Linked DNA regions of Homo sapiens. The protein of the gene in region 2 interacts with the protein of the main gene of each other region in a pairwise test. Each region holds a gene or a part of one and is shown on either strand. Other genes may lie near its edges.

Region 1 (7,029 bases), on a different chromosome or scaffold from region 2:
TCCATTTCTGAACTATCTGCTCAATAGGAGCGACATTTTCCCCCTTTCTTTTCTAAACAATAACTATATTCAGGCTGCACAGAGCCTGTTAAAGGTGCCAAGGATCAGGGGCGCTATAAGTACCAGGGGTCTGAGCTACCTGCTAATACTTGGTGTAGAGTCAATAAGAAATCTAGATGATCCCTTTGGACTTGGGGCCATGACCTCCAGAGTCCCTGCCAGGACTCTGTCCATACACTCTGTTGACCAAACTTAGATCTGTCTTTGCTGCTTAGAGAAGAGGCTGAGGTGCCCTCTCCTCTTACCCTTGTGGTGGAACTCAGCTTGGGGAAGAAGAGGTTGGGGGTGTGTGCACCTGCACCTCCTGCTGCATGACTGACTGAGAGTCACCACAGCAGTTTGCTCTATGGTAAACTACAGTCATGGAGTTGTGAATTTTCTGAAGCCTTAAGCTGGGAAGCTAATGAAAGTGTTAGAACCAGACCCCAGAAAAATGAGTTTTTCTGTAGAGTTTGCTCTGCGGTTAACTAAAGTCACAGAATACTGAGTTTCCTGGAGGCTTCGAGCTTGGAATCTGATAAAAGCTTTGGAACCAGACCCCAGAAAAATGCAGATGTACATACATTTTCCAAGTAATCTGAAGTTGTATATGGACTCCTTGAACACCCCAGGTGAAGAACTCCCAATTTAATATAACTCCTTTATTCTACAAATGGGAGAACTGTGGCTCAGAAGGGCACAGTGAATTGTCCCGGTTTATATATCAGTTGTAAGTGTCTCTACAATGCCCTTTCCCTGTGACCAAAGAGAATGAAGCCTAAAGAAGAGACCAGCAATGGACTTCTCCGCTGTAGTGATAAACAGGCTGAAGCATGAGAAATTTGGATCCGACCCAAAGGTGGACTTTCCCCAACAGTTTTAGATGTTGGAATATGGTATAGAAATTCATTCAGCACATACTTAAGAGTACCTACTAAATGCCATGCCTCACTCTAGGTGCTGGAAATCCACAAAGATCTAGAATCTAGAAAACATACAAAAAATTCCTGCCCTCGTGGAGCTTTGCATTCTAGTTGGCAAAGACAGATAATATCAAATAAATAATAAAAATATGCAGTAAGTCAGGCTGGGCGTGGTGGCTCACACCTGTAATCCCAGCACTTTGGGAGGCCGAGGTGGGCAGATCACTTGAGGTCAGGAGTTCAGGACCAGCCTGGCCAATATGGTGAAACCCCCTCTATACCAAAAAATACAAAAATTAGCTGGGCATGATGGTACATGCCAGTAGTCCCAGCTACTCAGGAGGCTAAGGTGGGAGAATCACTTGAACCCAGGAGGCAGAGGTTGTACTGAGCAGAGATGATGCCGCTGCCCTCTAGCCTGGGTGACAGAGTGAGACCCTGTCTCAAACAAAAATGCAGTTAAGTCAGATGATAAGTGCTAAGGAAATAAAGCCGGGAGGAAGACAGGGAGGGTAGGAGATAGGTGTTGGTGTTGGTTGCAGTCGTAAAGAGAGAGGTGACATACGAGTACAGAGTCCTCTAAGAGGCATGGGTAAAGTCATGGTGATACCTAAGAGATATGAACTTACTGAGGGAGGGTCTGAATAGATGGGGCACAGCCTTGCTTGCAGGGCCTGAATAGGCAGGGTACAGACTTGCTTGCATGCGCATGAATATGAAAACACATATTTATTTAGGAGTGTTTATCAGTGAGCTAGATGGTTATACCTCACTCTCACGTAGCTCTTTATAAAGAGCATCACAATTGGCCGGGCACGGTGGCTCATGCCTGTAATCCCAGCACTTTGGGAGGCCGAGGCGGGCAGATCATGAGGTCAGGAGATCAAGACCGTCCTGGCTAACACGGTGAAACCCCATGAGGTCAGATCAAGACCATCCTGGCTAACACGGTGAAACCCCGTCTCTGCTAAAATACAAAAAATTAGCTGGGCGTGGTGGTGGGCACCTGTAGTCCCAGCTACTTGGGAGGCTGAGGCAGGAGAATGGCCTGAACCTGGGAGGCAGAGCTTGCAGTGAGCCAAGATCGTGCCACTGCACTCCAGCCTGGGCGACAAGGTGAGACTCCGTCTCAAAAAAAAAAAAAGATCATCACAACCAACCCTACTGAAACCTTGCCCAGGGCTACCCAGGAGGTAAGTGGCAGAGATGAAACTGGTTTCAGGGCTCCAGTCTGTAGAGAGCACGGGGCAGGTGGGATCCTGTGTGCAGCCTGGGGGATGAGCTCCAAGGCATCCTCTCGTCCACAGGTCAGGTACAGTGCGGGCAGGTGCACTGCCGGCTGCCTTACACCGCACCCCCCGTCCACCTCAAAGCCGATATGGATGGGCCGCTCTCCAACCGGGGTGAGAAGGTAAATGGAGCCAGGTTGGGTCTGGTGGGTCAGAGCCACCCTGCTGGGGATGGGTTTCTGGCAGCATCCTCTGTTAACCATTTGGTACCATGCTGCGCTGTGGCAGACCCTGTCTGCCCGGCCTGCTGAGACCCCCACCGCACCCCCACAGCAGTCACTGGAGCGGTGGTTGCTAGTGTGTTCTGTGTGCATGGCCACTCCGAAGGCCTCCTTGCAGCTCCCCACTGGCAGTTTGCCCTGCTCTGTCTTAGATTTGTGAATTTCCTTTACTCAAGCTTTAAGTTCCAGGGAGGGCTTATATCACTCATCACCCCACTTCCCATCATCTCACTGGTTTCTCCTTTTCATTCTTGTCTGTTGGGAGTGAATATCCTGAGCTGATGGGGTTCAGGGATAGCTGGCCAGCCAGTGACCTTGGTCAACTGGCAGGGCCTCCTCTGTGGAGCCAGGATTTCTGGTTGTCTCAGGCTTTAGGACTGCACTTCTAAAAGGGTGCTTAGCTGTCCCCATTCCAGGGCTTCAAGGTATTATTTCTGAAGCAATGCAACCCTTTGTTTAAACTTGTCCATAGTGCAGATGAAGGTGGATGGAGCTGCTCTGAAACCATGGAGAGAGGAGGAGACTTACCTCCCTCCCAGCTCCAAGACACCTCACAGTTAGCCTCGAAAGCCAGTGCTGTCAGACAACCCTTCATTTTAGAAATGGGAACGTTGAGGCCCAGATAGCTCAAAGTCAGAGATTGGATGAGAACCTTGCTTTTTTTTTTTTTTTTTTTTTTTAGACAGAGTTTCACTCTTATCGCCCAGGCTGGAGTGCAATGGCGCAATCTCGGCTCACTGCAACCTCCACCTCCTGGGTTCAGGTGATTCTCCTGCCTCAGCCTCCCGAAGTAGCTGGGATTACAGGCGCCTACCACCATGCCCAGCTAATTTTTTTGTATTTTTAGTAGAGATGGGGTTTCGCCACGTAGGCCAGGCTGGTCTTGAACTGCTGACCTCAGGTGATCCACCCGCCTCAGCCTCCCAAAGTGCTGGGATTACAGGCGTGAGCCACCGTGCCCGGCCGAACCTTACATTTTTTAATTCACTGACTTGTTTATTTGGAGACATTTCCTATGTCTTGTCTGTGCCCAGCATCCATGAATCTGTTGCTAGGAGTGGAAACAAGTAAAGTGTGGTCCCTACCCTTGAGGAGGCCAGAGTCTGGAGGGGGAGGCAGATCCCAACAGTTACAATACAGTGTGACAGGGGAAGCCATGGGAGCTGGGGAGGGGGAAGGGGGCAAAGGAGAGAGGCAGGGAAGACTTCCCAGAAGAGGCAACCTCTAAGGCCAGGCCTGAAAGCTGAGGCATCAGGGAAGGCATGAGACACCAGAGCTCTCAGGGAACCCTGAGCCATTCAGCATTGTTGGCAGGCATGTCTGGGAGGATGAGAGGAGGAAAGCGAGAGCCTTGAGGCTGCCAGGTGGAAGAGTCTGTATTTTATGCTGCGGCAGTGTGGGGTCCTGGAGGGCCTGCTGCAGAAACATCACTGTAGCAGTCTTCAGAGACTGCTGGGTTGGAGGACACCCAGTAGGAAGCAGGGATCCCTGGAGGTCAGTGGGTGTGGCAGTCCCTCGGAGGGAGAGGGTCAGAGCATTAGGGCTGGAGTCAGGAGCCCTCCAGTTCAGCAGATCCCGGTCTTGGTGTGCTCGGAATCACCTGGGCAGCTTGTAAATATACAGAGATTCCTAAGCCTCGCTCTCAGAGAGTCTGTTGGGGTGGGATATAGGGATCTGCGAGTGTAATACTCAGCCTGTGTGATTCTAACGGGCAGCCGGGGTGGGGACAGCTCCTTTAGGATGGTACCTCTGGCTCAGCCTCCTGATTGAGCTCAGTACACCTAGTATGTACTGAGCTCTCTGTGCCGGGCACCACAGGAGAATGTGTATGGTGTGGAGGTACAGACAGCCCTGGACAGATACATTTGTAAATAAATGGTAGTGCCTAACGTAAAATCCTGCAGAATCTGTAGTGAGTGAGCATGCCCCAGGAACACCATCGCCGCTGAGACTGTCACATCCATAGGAAGAGCTGCCGTTTGCTGAGCTCCTTCTGTTCAAGGCAGCTACTTCTCACATGGCATCTGGTTCACACCTCCCAGCCACTTTGTGGACATAGAGATGGCCTTCTCATTGTAAAGAGATAAACAGATTCCGAGAGGTGACATGACTTGTCCAGGGATGCAGCGAGTCTGTCGGACTCTGAAGTCTGCGCGGCTCAGTAATCACTTCCTTTTGTGCAGCACTTCATTGTGTACACAGCCCTCTCTCCGACCTCATCCTTCATAGTCTCCCTGGGAGGGTGATTGCGATGACCTCCATTTCACACTTGCAGAAACGGAGGCTCAGACAGAGCAGTGCTCATCCAGAATCACAATGTGAGCATGGGCAGAACTGGCCGGGATCCTAGAGCCACCTGCCTCAGAGCTGTCCCTTCCTGTGGGAGGGGATTCATCCTATTAGACCTGGCTCTGGGACTGCAGAAGTGAGCTGACATGATCCCTGCCCTCAGGGAGCTTGTGGCTTAGCACAGGGTGTGGGCAGTTACATTGCAGGGGAATGGGCAGCTGGAGTAGGCGAGAAACTTGACCTTAGAGGACCCAGAAGAGGAGGCAGTGAGCTCTAGGGGAGAGACAGGGGACAAGAAGAAGGGTGTTCCACATCAAGAGAACCGCATGTGCAAAGGCCCAGAGGCATGGAGGAGCTTGGGCCGGAGGGGACCCTGGGGGACGTTCAGTGTGGCTGAGGTCCAGGGAAGTGGGGAGAGCCGACAGGGGCCACAGAACAAAGGATCATGGAAAGAGGGTCTTGGACATTATGTGGAGGGCAGGGATGGGCCCTGGAGGTACAGAGGGCTGGGCTCAGTGCTTGGAGAGGAGCCTTTGCCTCCTGGTTGCTCAGCTAAGCTTGTGGTTCTGTCTCATTCAGCCTGGGGGATGAGCCATGCTGGGGGCTGTCAGATTTGGCTATAGACAGTTTCTGGCTTCTGGATTTGGCTGCTGAGCCAGAGTTTTCCCTTGCTGGGCTGTGTCCCCAACTTTGCACCCAGAAAGTCTGCATTAAAGTGTCTCTCCCTCCTTCATGACCTTCTGTCCTCTCACTGTCAGGCCTTTCCGCCAGCTCCTAGGGACTTTTCTTGTCCATAACTCTCAAATTCCTGGGGCTTGGTGGGCGGCAGGGTGTGGTATGTGTGTGGCCAGCACAGGATTGTCTGGGCTTTCTTCCAAGTCCTTCCAGGCCTGAGCCTGCCTAGCTGTGAGGAGACTCAGTGTCCCCATGGGGCTGGCCCCTGAACCCACTCATCTAGACCAGCACTGGCCTGGCCAGGAGAACAGTGCTCTGAGCACTCAGGGGAGCATCCCCTGCCTCCACCGCATCGTCATTTGGCCACACACACCTGTGAGGTTCCAGAGCCACATTTCTTCCTGGTTGTGTCCCCTGATCCCACAAATCCAACACTTGGAAAGTTCTTAGAAATCAGGGCTAAGCTGTCATTGATCAGTGGAGGAGACTGAGACCCATGGAGGGGAAGGGTCCTACCAGGGTCGCCACTCTTGAGAGAGCTTTTCCTAATAAGGGCTAAAAGCCAGGCATTCTGGAGGCCAAAGTGGAGCAGTGGCCAGGGTGGGGAAGGAATGCCCACCCTGGCCACTCTGGAGTTAGGCCAGCTCGGAATCCCAGCTCTGCCACCTCCCCTGTGAGATCTGGGAATGCAATTAGTTTCTCTGAGCTGCGGTTTCTACATCTGCAAACTGGGGATAATAATAGTTCCCACTCCGTAGGGTTGCTGCAGAGAATAAATGCATAATGTGTGTAAGGAGCCCAGCACAGAGCCTGGTGCACAGAAAATGCCCCCAGGTGTTGGTTATGATCATGATCACTATTATGGTGATCATCATCATTGCTTTCCTCCATCACCTCCTTGTGATAACCAGTTCTGGGCAAGTAACATTCCTGATCAGAAAAGGGAACAGCCATGTAGTCATGCCCACCAGATGCCCCTCACACTTTACTGTGAAATGACACATTGCCATTGACCAGCCAGCCAGTGATCCTTGACCTGAACTTCAGGGAACTGGCTGTGTCAGCAGCAGTGAGATGTCAACCAAGTGCTAGAGGTGGGAGTGGGAGGGGGAAAGGGACAGACAGTCCTGATCTCCCACTGTGTATCGGGCACCCAGTGTGTCTGAGCCACGCACTTCTAGGCTTCGTGCATGTGAAGATTAAGCGCATGTGAAGTGCTTAGCCCGTGGCCCTGTGGGTAATAAGCAGTCAGCCACTATGGTCACGGTGACCTTGGAAAGGTAGAGGCAATGTGCTTTGGTAGGGAGAGCTTGCTGTGAGCCAGGCCTGGCCTCCAGTGCCAGGTCCTCCTCCTCGCTGTGTGCCCACGAGCTCACTCGCTTCCACCTCTTTGAGCCTGAGTGCCCTCCTTGTAAAACAGAACGTTGGAACTCCCTCACGGGGCTATGGTGCGGCTTCCGTGAAATCAGGCACAGAAGGTGCAGGGTGAAATGCCCAGAAGGCTTTTGCTGCTGCTGTTGTATCTCATTGAATCTCTCTGATTCTCAGAGAGAGATTTTGTCATCCTTGTTTTAAAGATGAGGAAACAGGCTC
Region 2 (7,029 bases):
CATAAGAAGTCCCTTGTTACAGGCCGGGTGCGATGGCTCACACCTGTAATCCCAGCACTTTGGGAGGCTAAGGCAGGCGGATCACTTGAGGTCAGGAGTTTGTGACCACCCCAGCCAACATGGTGAAAGCCCGTCTCTACTAAAAATATAAAAATTAGCTGGGCATGGTGGCACACGCCTGTAATCCAAGCTACTAGGAAGGCTGAGGCAGGAGAATCACTTGAACCCAGGAGGTGCAGGTTGCAGTGAGCTGAGATCGCGTCACTGCACTCCAGCCTGGGTGACAGAGCAAGAGTCCATCTCAAAAAAAAAAAAAAAAAAAAAAGTCCTTTGTTCCATAACCCTCAAGGAAGCCCTTGATTGCCACCACTGCCACTGCCACCCACGACTCTCACCGAGGCAGTCCCCTGATGTGCAGCCTGGGCTGCAAACCTGGCCACATGGTTGATGATGGGTGCAAAGTTGGTAGGGCCATAGAGGCGAACTTGGGGCAGGGCTTGGCGGTAGGCATCCACAATGCCCTGGATGCCTGCAGAGGAGAGCAAGAAATACCGTAAAATCCTGGACCTCTCAGGACTACACCAGTCCTGAAATCACCCCATCCCAGCCCAGGAGATCTCGGAACCTGGGTGCATTTCATTCATTCACCCTTGTAAACCAGGGTACTTAACTGTCTCCTACACATGAGGAAACTAAGGTTCAAAGAGAGGAGGGGACTTGCCCTAAATCACAGCTTGAATTAGCACCCAGATGAGAGGGATTCTCCTGGACAAATCCAGGAGAGTTTGAGCATCAGATTATAACCTATTTAATAATGATCCATTTGATACAATAAGGATCCGTACTATGGATTAATTACTGAGGGAGAAGGGAAAGCTCCTAATAAATGTAAAAGGAAGAATTACACAATCATTTGACAATCACAGAAATGACTGATTCAGGCAAGGATCATCAATGGATGTTAAAACTAGAGAGTATAGCCAGGCACAGTGGCATGTGCCTGTAGTCCCAGCTACTCACGAGGCTGAGGTGGGAGGACTGCTTGAGCCCAGGGGTTCAAGGCCAGCTTAGGCAACATAGTGAGACCCCCGTCACTTAAAAAATAAAAAAACTAAGGCCGGGCGCAGTGGCTCAGGCCTGTAATCCCAGCACTTTGGGAGGCTGAGGCGGGCGGATCACAAGGTCAGGAGATTGAGACCATCCCAGCTAACACAGTGAAACCCCGTCTCTACTAAAAATACAAAAAAAAAACTAGCCGGGCGTGGTGGTGGGCGCCTGTAGTCCCAGCTACTCGGGAGGCTGAGGCAGGAGAATGGCGTGAACCCAGGAGGTGGAGCTTGCAGTGAGCCAAGATCGCGCCACCGCATTCCAGCCTGGGTGACAGAGCAAGACTCCATCTCAAAAAATAAAAAATAAAAAATAAATTAAAAAAAAAAAAACTAGAGGGGAATGTTGATGTGTGTGTGATGAGTATTTGTATAGTCTCTTCCCAGAATATACTTACTAAATAGAAAGGAGAAAATAGTACTTGTATAGTGGAGAAACCTGGTAGATCTTACCTTAACTAAGTGACCAAAGTCAACATGACTGGTAATAGGACAAATCAACATCATGTTCCTCTGAATATGATGCACTGAGAATATACAGCATCACTTTGGTGGTATTCCTGCCAAAAATGTACAACCTGAATCTAATCCTGAGGATTTATCAGGTAAACCCAAACTGAGGGACATTCTAGAAAATATCTGGCCTATACTGTTTATATCATGAAATGTGAATGTCATGAAAGGCAAGAAGTCTTCCATATAAAAAGATATGTGCTAACTGAACGCAATGTGTGATCTGAGATTTTCTTTTGCTGTAAAAGACATTAGGACAATTGGCAACATCTGAATAAATGCTATAGGCTGGATAATAGCATAGATGTTCATTTCCTGATTTTGAGGATTGGTCTGTGATAATGTAAGAAAGAGTCTTTGATTTTAGGAGATACTGAAGTACTCAGAGGTAAAAAGCCAGGTGGATAATGATGGGTACAAAGCTGGTAGGGCCATAGAAGCAAACCTGAGGCAGGGCTATTCACTACAGCATTCTCCAACACACGTATACATGTGTGTACATACATAAACACATATTTTTAATCTTTTTTCCCTTGAAATGTGTGAATGTGTGTGTATATGTATACATGTGTACACACACACACACATATACACACACATACACACTGTATACATGTATGAGAAAAGAGAAAACAAATGTGGTAAAATGTTATGTTAGGGTAATTGGGATAAAGGTGAAGAGCCCCTGTGAACTCAGGCCCTGACCCCTGAGTTCCAAGGGACTGAGCTCCTATGACTATTCTTGCAACTTTTCTCTAAGTCTGAACTTATGTTGAAATACAAAATTAAAATTTTAAAACCCAGATCAGATCAGGTCAGGTCAGATTTTCCACTTCAGCTTGTGCCCCCTTGGGGGTACTGGGGAGTCAAAAGGTTTGGCCCTAAACAAAAGGGCTTGGTGGACTCTGGCAAAATGCACCCTGCAAGGAGGCAAACAAGGCTTCCACTGATGCTCAAGTAAGTACCTGTTAGCTTCTAGGCAAAGATAATAACGATAATATAACAGATACCATTTTTCGGAGAACACTTAGTAAGTACCAGGCTTACTGCTTTACTTGTATCCTCTCCTTGAGTACTCAATTTCCTATGTTTAGTCTTATGAAACCAAAGCACACAGAGATTAAGCAACCTGCCCCAAGTCATGTGGCATCATTTTTTTTTTTTTTTGAGATAGGTTCTCACTCTATCACCCAGGCTGGAGTATAGTGGCATGATCATGATCATGGCTCACCACAACCTCAACCTCCTGGGCTCAGGTGATCCTCCCACCTCAGCCTCCTGAGTAGCTAGAACTACAGGCGCCTGCCATCATGCTCGGCTAATTTTTGTAATTTTAGTAGAGATGGGGTTTTGCCATGTTTCCCAAGCTAGTCTCAAATTCCTGGGCTCAAGCGATCCACCCACCTTGGCCTCGCAACTGAGTGCTAGGATTACGGGCGTGAGCCACCACTCCTGGCCTGGCATGACGATTTGATTCCAGAGGCCTAGCTCTAAAATCCACCCTCTGGGTCAGGCGCTGTGGCTCAATACCTGTAATCCCAGCACTTTGGGAGGCCAAGGCAGGTCAATCACCTGAGGTCAGGAATTCGAGACCACCCTGGCCAACATGGCAAAACCCCGTCTCTACTAAACATACAAAAATTAGCCAGGCACGGTGGCAAGCGACTGTAGTCCCAGCTACTTGGGAGGCTGAGGCAGAAGAATTGCTCGAACCCAGTAGGCAGAGGTTGCAAGTGAGCTAAGATTGCGCCACCGCACTCCAGCCTGGGTGACAGAGCAAGACTCTTTCTCAAAAAATAAATTAAACTAAAATTAAATAAAATCCACCCTCTGGACAATGAAGGCAGGTATCTGCCCCCACTCTCCCTTTTACTCATGCAGGCTTGCCCCTCTTTGTGTGGACAGACCTGCCTCAGGGTGGATGGGGAAACTTACCTGCACAGTAGGGGTTACTGGGGTTGAAATTCAAGGCAAATTCATGCGAGACCTGGAGACAAGAATGAAAATGAGGTTCTTTCCCCATGACCTCTGCTAAGAATGAAAAAGGACACTGGCGTGTGCCAAGATTCCTATAGGAGCTATGGAGTCCTGAGCACTTGCTGTCTACGTGCCTGCAGGAATCCAACCCTGCATCTCCTCTTAAAGCTGAGTGCCAAGTAGCAAGTAAATTTACCACATCCCCCAAAATCAGGACCCTGAAACTGAAAACAGGAGTGGCAGAAAGAGAGGGAGCTCACCTGCCAGTCAGGGGGAACCTGGGCCCCAAATCCAAATGCAGGGAACAGCTTGTCTCTGTGGGAGGACAGTGTATTGGGCAAAAGGCAGTGAGGGGACTGTAAGCTCAGAGGCTGAAGCATCTGCAGGGAGCGGGTATAGCCCAGAGAAGCAGGTACTCACGAGTCATAGTCCTGAACCACGCTGCCCACACTCCACAGTGCCATCAGGTACTCATTGACCCCTGTTGGACTCAGGTAGTGTAGGGAGTCAGGTGAGGAGGGGTCTCCATTGGAGCCAGTGAAGTCCACGCCCACCTGGGAGGAGGTGAGGAAGGCAGCTAAAGGCCACCCTGAGCCCCAGACCTGTTCTCTTGCCCTTGGTAAAGTAACTTACAGTGAAGTTGATCTGACAGCCTCCCATCACATAGTCCAGAAAGGAGTACTCTGTTTCTACCTGCAAATGAAACCAGGGTCATGCCTGGGGTGATAGCAGTTGGTGTCATGGAGCTCAGGAATCAGAGCCTTGGTTACATGGGCTTTTGTCTCACCCGACAAATCTTGACACGGATAGTTCCAGAGTTCTTGTAGCTTTTCTTTTTCTGCTGCTTCTCAGGGTGGATGCATTCAAACTCAGCCTGGTGAGGACAGAAAAATTAGGGTAGGAAATTCTCAGAGCATCAGTCAAGGACTCGAGCTGCCTTCTCCTTCCTCTCTCCCACAAGCTTCAGCTATCTAGGCCCATTTCCACACCCCTGGCAAGACCAGCACTCACCGGGACTGCCTGCAGCTGGGCCAAGCTGGTGTGGAAGGTACCGATGAGATCATGTGACCCGTCACTGTCATAATCGGAGCATTGCACCTGAGGGAAAGGTGTGTGTGGACATAAACAAGCCAGGTGGCAGATGAGAATAAGTCCCTCCCCAGGTTCTCTTCTCCAGCGCAGTCCACTTAGGGGGCAAGCTCCTCACCTGGATGGGTGTGCTGGGGTTCCCACCACAGAAATGCTGAACGGGGACTGAGAAACGCTTCCATGTAGGGTTCAGGTTGTTCTTGATGACCTGAAGGTGGAGGCCAAGGCCTCCAGTGAGCTCTGGCATGGCCCCCTGAGGAGCTGCCACACTTCTCTACCCACCTGCAGTCTCTTTCTGAGTTCCAAACCTTGCTAGTCACAGGCCCCAGGAGATTATCTCCTACCCCAGCCCACCCAATCCCAGGGGTCTCATACCTCAGATCTGTACACCAGGTGCCATTTCCCATCACCCTGGCGGAAGAACTCCAGAAATGGATCTGATTTTCCCAGGAAGTCCTGCCAATGCGAGACCCCAGTTACAAGACTCAGGAACAAACAACCATTATGCCATCCCTCTGTCCACACCCCCATCCCCCATACACCATCCTTGGCCCCTTAACTCTTGGATTACCAGGGCCTACTTCCAGACACACCTTCTTATCTAGGTTTCTGGCCTCTACCTCCATGGTTACTACACGATTGTCCTTTAATTCCTGAGCTGAGACCTAGGTAGGGGAGACTACATCACCTCATGAATTCATTGATGTTAAGTCCCTCCTCAACCCTTGCTGGGTTCCTTACCGTGATGGTCCCCCGCCCAGCAGGTTTTCCAGGCTTCAGCATCAAGGGGAGAGTCAGTACCTGGCTGGACACAATCTGGGGAAAAGCAGGGAAGGGAGTTTCAGGATAACAGGCAGGGTTAGGTCCTGCTTGCCCCCTACCTCCAGGCAGGCTAGGTTGTCTCACAGACCTGCATCTGAAGGATCCTAATCCCCAGCCCTACATACCTGTCCTAGGGAACACTCAGCACCCCCTAGGAAGTCATCATCCCTCAGCTCTGGCGTCTTGTTGTCTATGTCATAGATTCCAAAGCGTAGCTTCTGGACTGTCTCAAAGCGGTACTCAAGCTGTAGAGTCTTGGAGAACTCAGGGCTTGAGCAGTTCCGCACCCGTTCAGTCCGGCCAAGCTGTGGGCAGAGGCCAGTAAGCATCACAGTCACAGCCTCCACCCCAAAACACAATCCTAGCCTCCCTCCACAACCTTAACCTCCATAATCCGCCTCACCTCAGCCCAGCTGCCCCCTCCCACATCCTGTAAAAGGACGCAGAGTGGGTCAGACTTGGAGCCGATGTCCTTGTCAATGAGATGGTCACAGGAAATGGACAGCTGAACCAAGGTCACGCAGTGGGCCATCTGAGGGAAAAGGAGCTGGGTCAAGCACCAGGGAGCCTTCTCTCCCCTTCCCCGACTACAGGTCCCAGCTTGGGAAGGCCAGCAGGCATCACCCAGGCAGGGCTGAGCATACGTCCACCCCCGTGACACCCAAGGAAGAGAAGGCCTCATAGCCTCCAAACCCCTCCACCCCTAGGTGAGCTCACTGGCACAGAAGATGGCAGATACAACCAACCCTGGTCTGAAGATATTGAAAAGGGGTACTAGCCTCCATCTACAACTGTGACCCCAAACTATCCTCACCCTAAAATTTGTCTTAATCCCAATAGGGCTGTCCAAACCCAGACTCTAATCTTGGTCTTTGCAAAGACCAATAAATCTTTCTGACCCCCTTACTGGCCCCAGGCCAGACCCTAATCCAAGTTCTGATCCTAACATAACCCCAAATATAACTATGATCCAGATAATATCCTCCACAAATTATCTTCTTCCAATAATTTCTCACTAACCCTGGGGATCTAACTCTTGTGGTGGAGTTATGATCCCCCTACTAATTCTCCTCACCTCTACTGCTAATGTTCAACTCCTCACTATTTCCACTGCTGCTGCCCAATCTAAGCCATCACTGTTTGTCACCTGGCTTACAGCATTAGCCTCTTCAACTGGTCTCCCTTATTCTATGCTGTCTCCACCTCCGTTCCCCCATGTCCACCCCAACAGGCTATTCTAAATACAGCAATCAGGGCGATCCTATTAAAACATAAGTGAGGCCGGACACAGTGGCTCATGCCTGTAATCCTGGCACTTTGGGAGGCCAAGGTGGGCAGATCACTTGAGGTCAGGAGTTTGAGACCAGCCTGGCCAACATGGTGAAACCCCGTCTCTACTAAAAAAAAAAATACAAAAATTAGCCAGGCATGTTGGCGTGTGCCTATAATCCTGGCTACTCAGGAGGCTGAGGCAGGAGAATTGCTTGAACCCAGGAGGTGGAGGTTGCAGTGAGCCGAGACT

The links.
Region 1: the proteins of CPNE1 (region 2) and LHX6 interact in binary tests that used the Homo sapiens proteins (3 or more experiments, as listed by UniProt).

The regions. Positions count from the first base shown.
Region 1 is NC_000009.12:122,204,958-122,211,986, reverse strand, and holds part of LHX6 (LIM/homeobox protein Lhx6), read left to right. Parts: exon of another isoform or gene 1-1,126; intron 1,127-2,269; coding exon 2,270-2,373; intron 2,374-7,029. UniProt on the Homo sapiens protein: Probable transcription factor required for the expression of a subset of genes involved in interneurons migration and development.
Region 2 is NC_000020.11:35,626,885-35,633,913, forward strand, and holds part of CPNE1 (copine-1), read right to left. Parts: intron 6,040-7,029; coding exon 5,911-6,039; intron 5,813-5,910; coding exon 5,633-5,812; intron 5,502-5,632; coding exon 5,427-5,501; intron 5,351-5,426; coding exon 5,279-5,350; intron 5,142-5,278; coding exon 5,061-5,141; intron 4,894-5,060; coding exon 4,804-4,893; intron 4,695-4,803; coding exon 4,608-4,694; intron 4,471-4,607; coding exon 4,384-4,470; intron 4,290-4,383; coding exon 4,230-4,289; intron 4,151-4,229; coding exon 4,017-4,150; intron 3,912-4,016; coding exon 3,857-3,911; intron 3,607-3,856; coding exon 3,555-3,606; intron 530-3,554; coding exon 396-529; intron 1-395.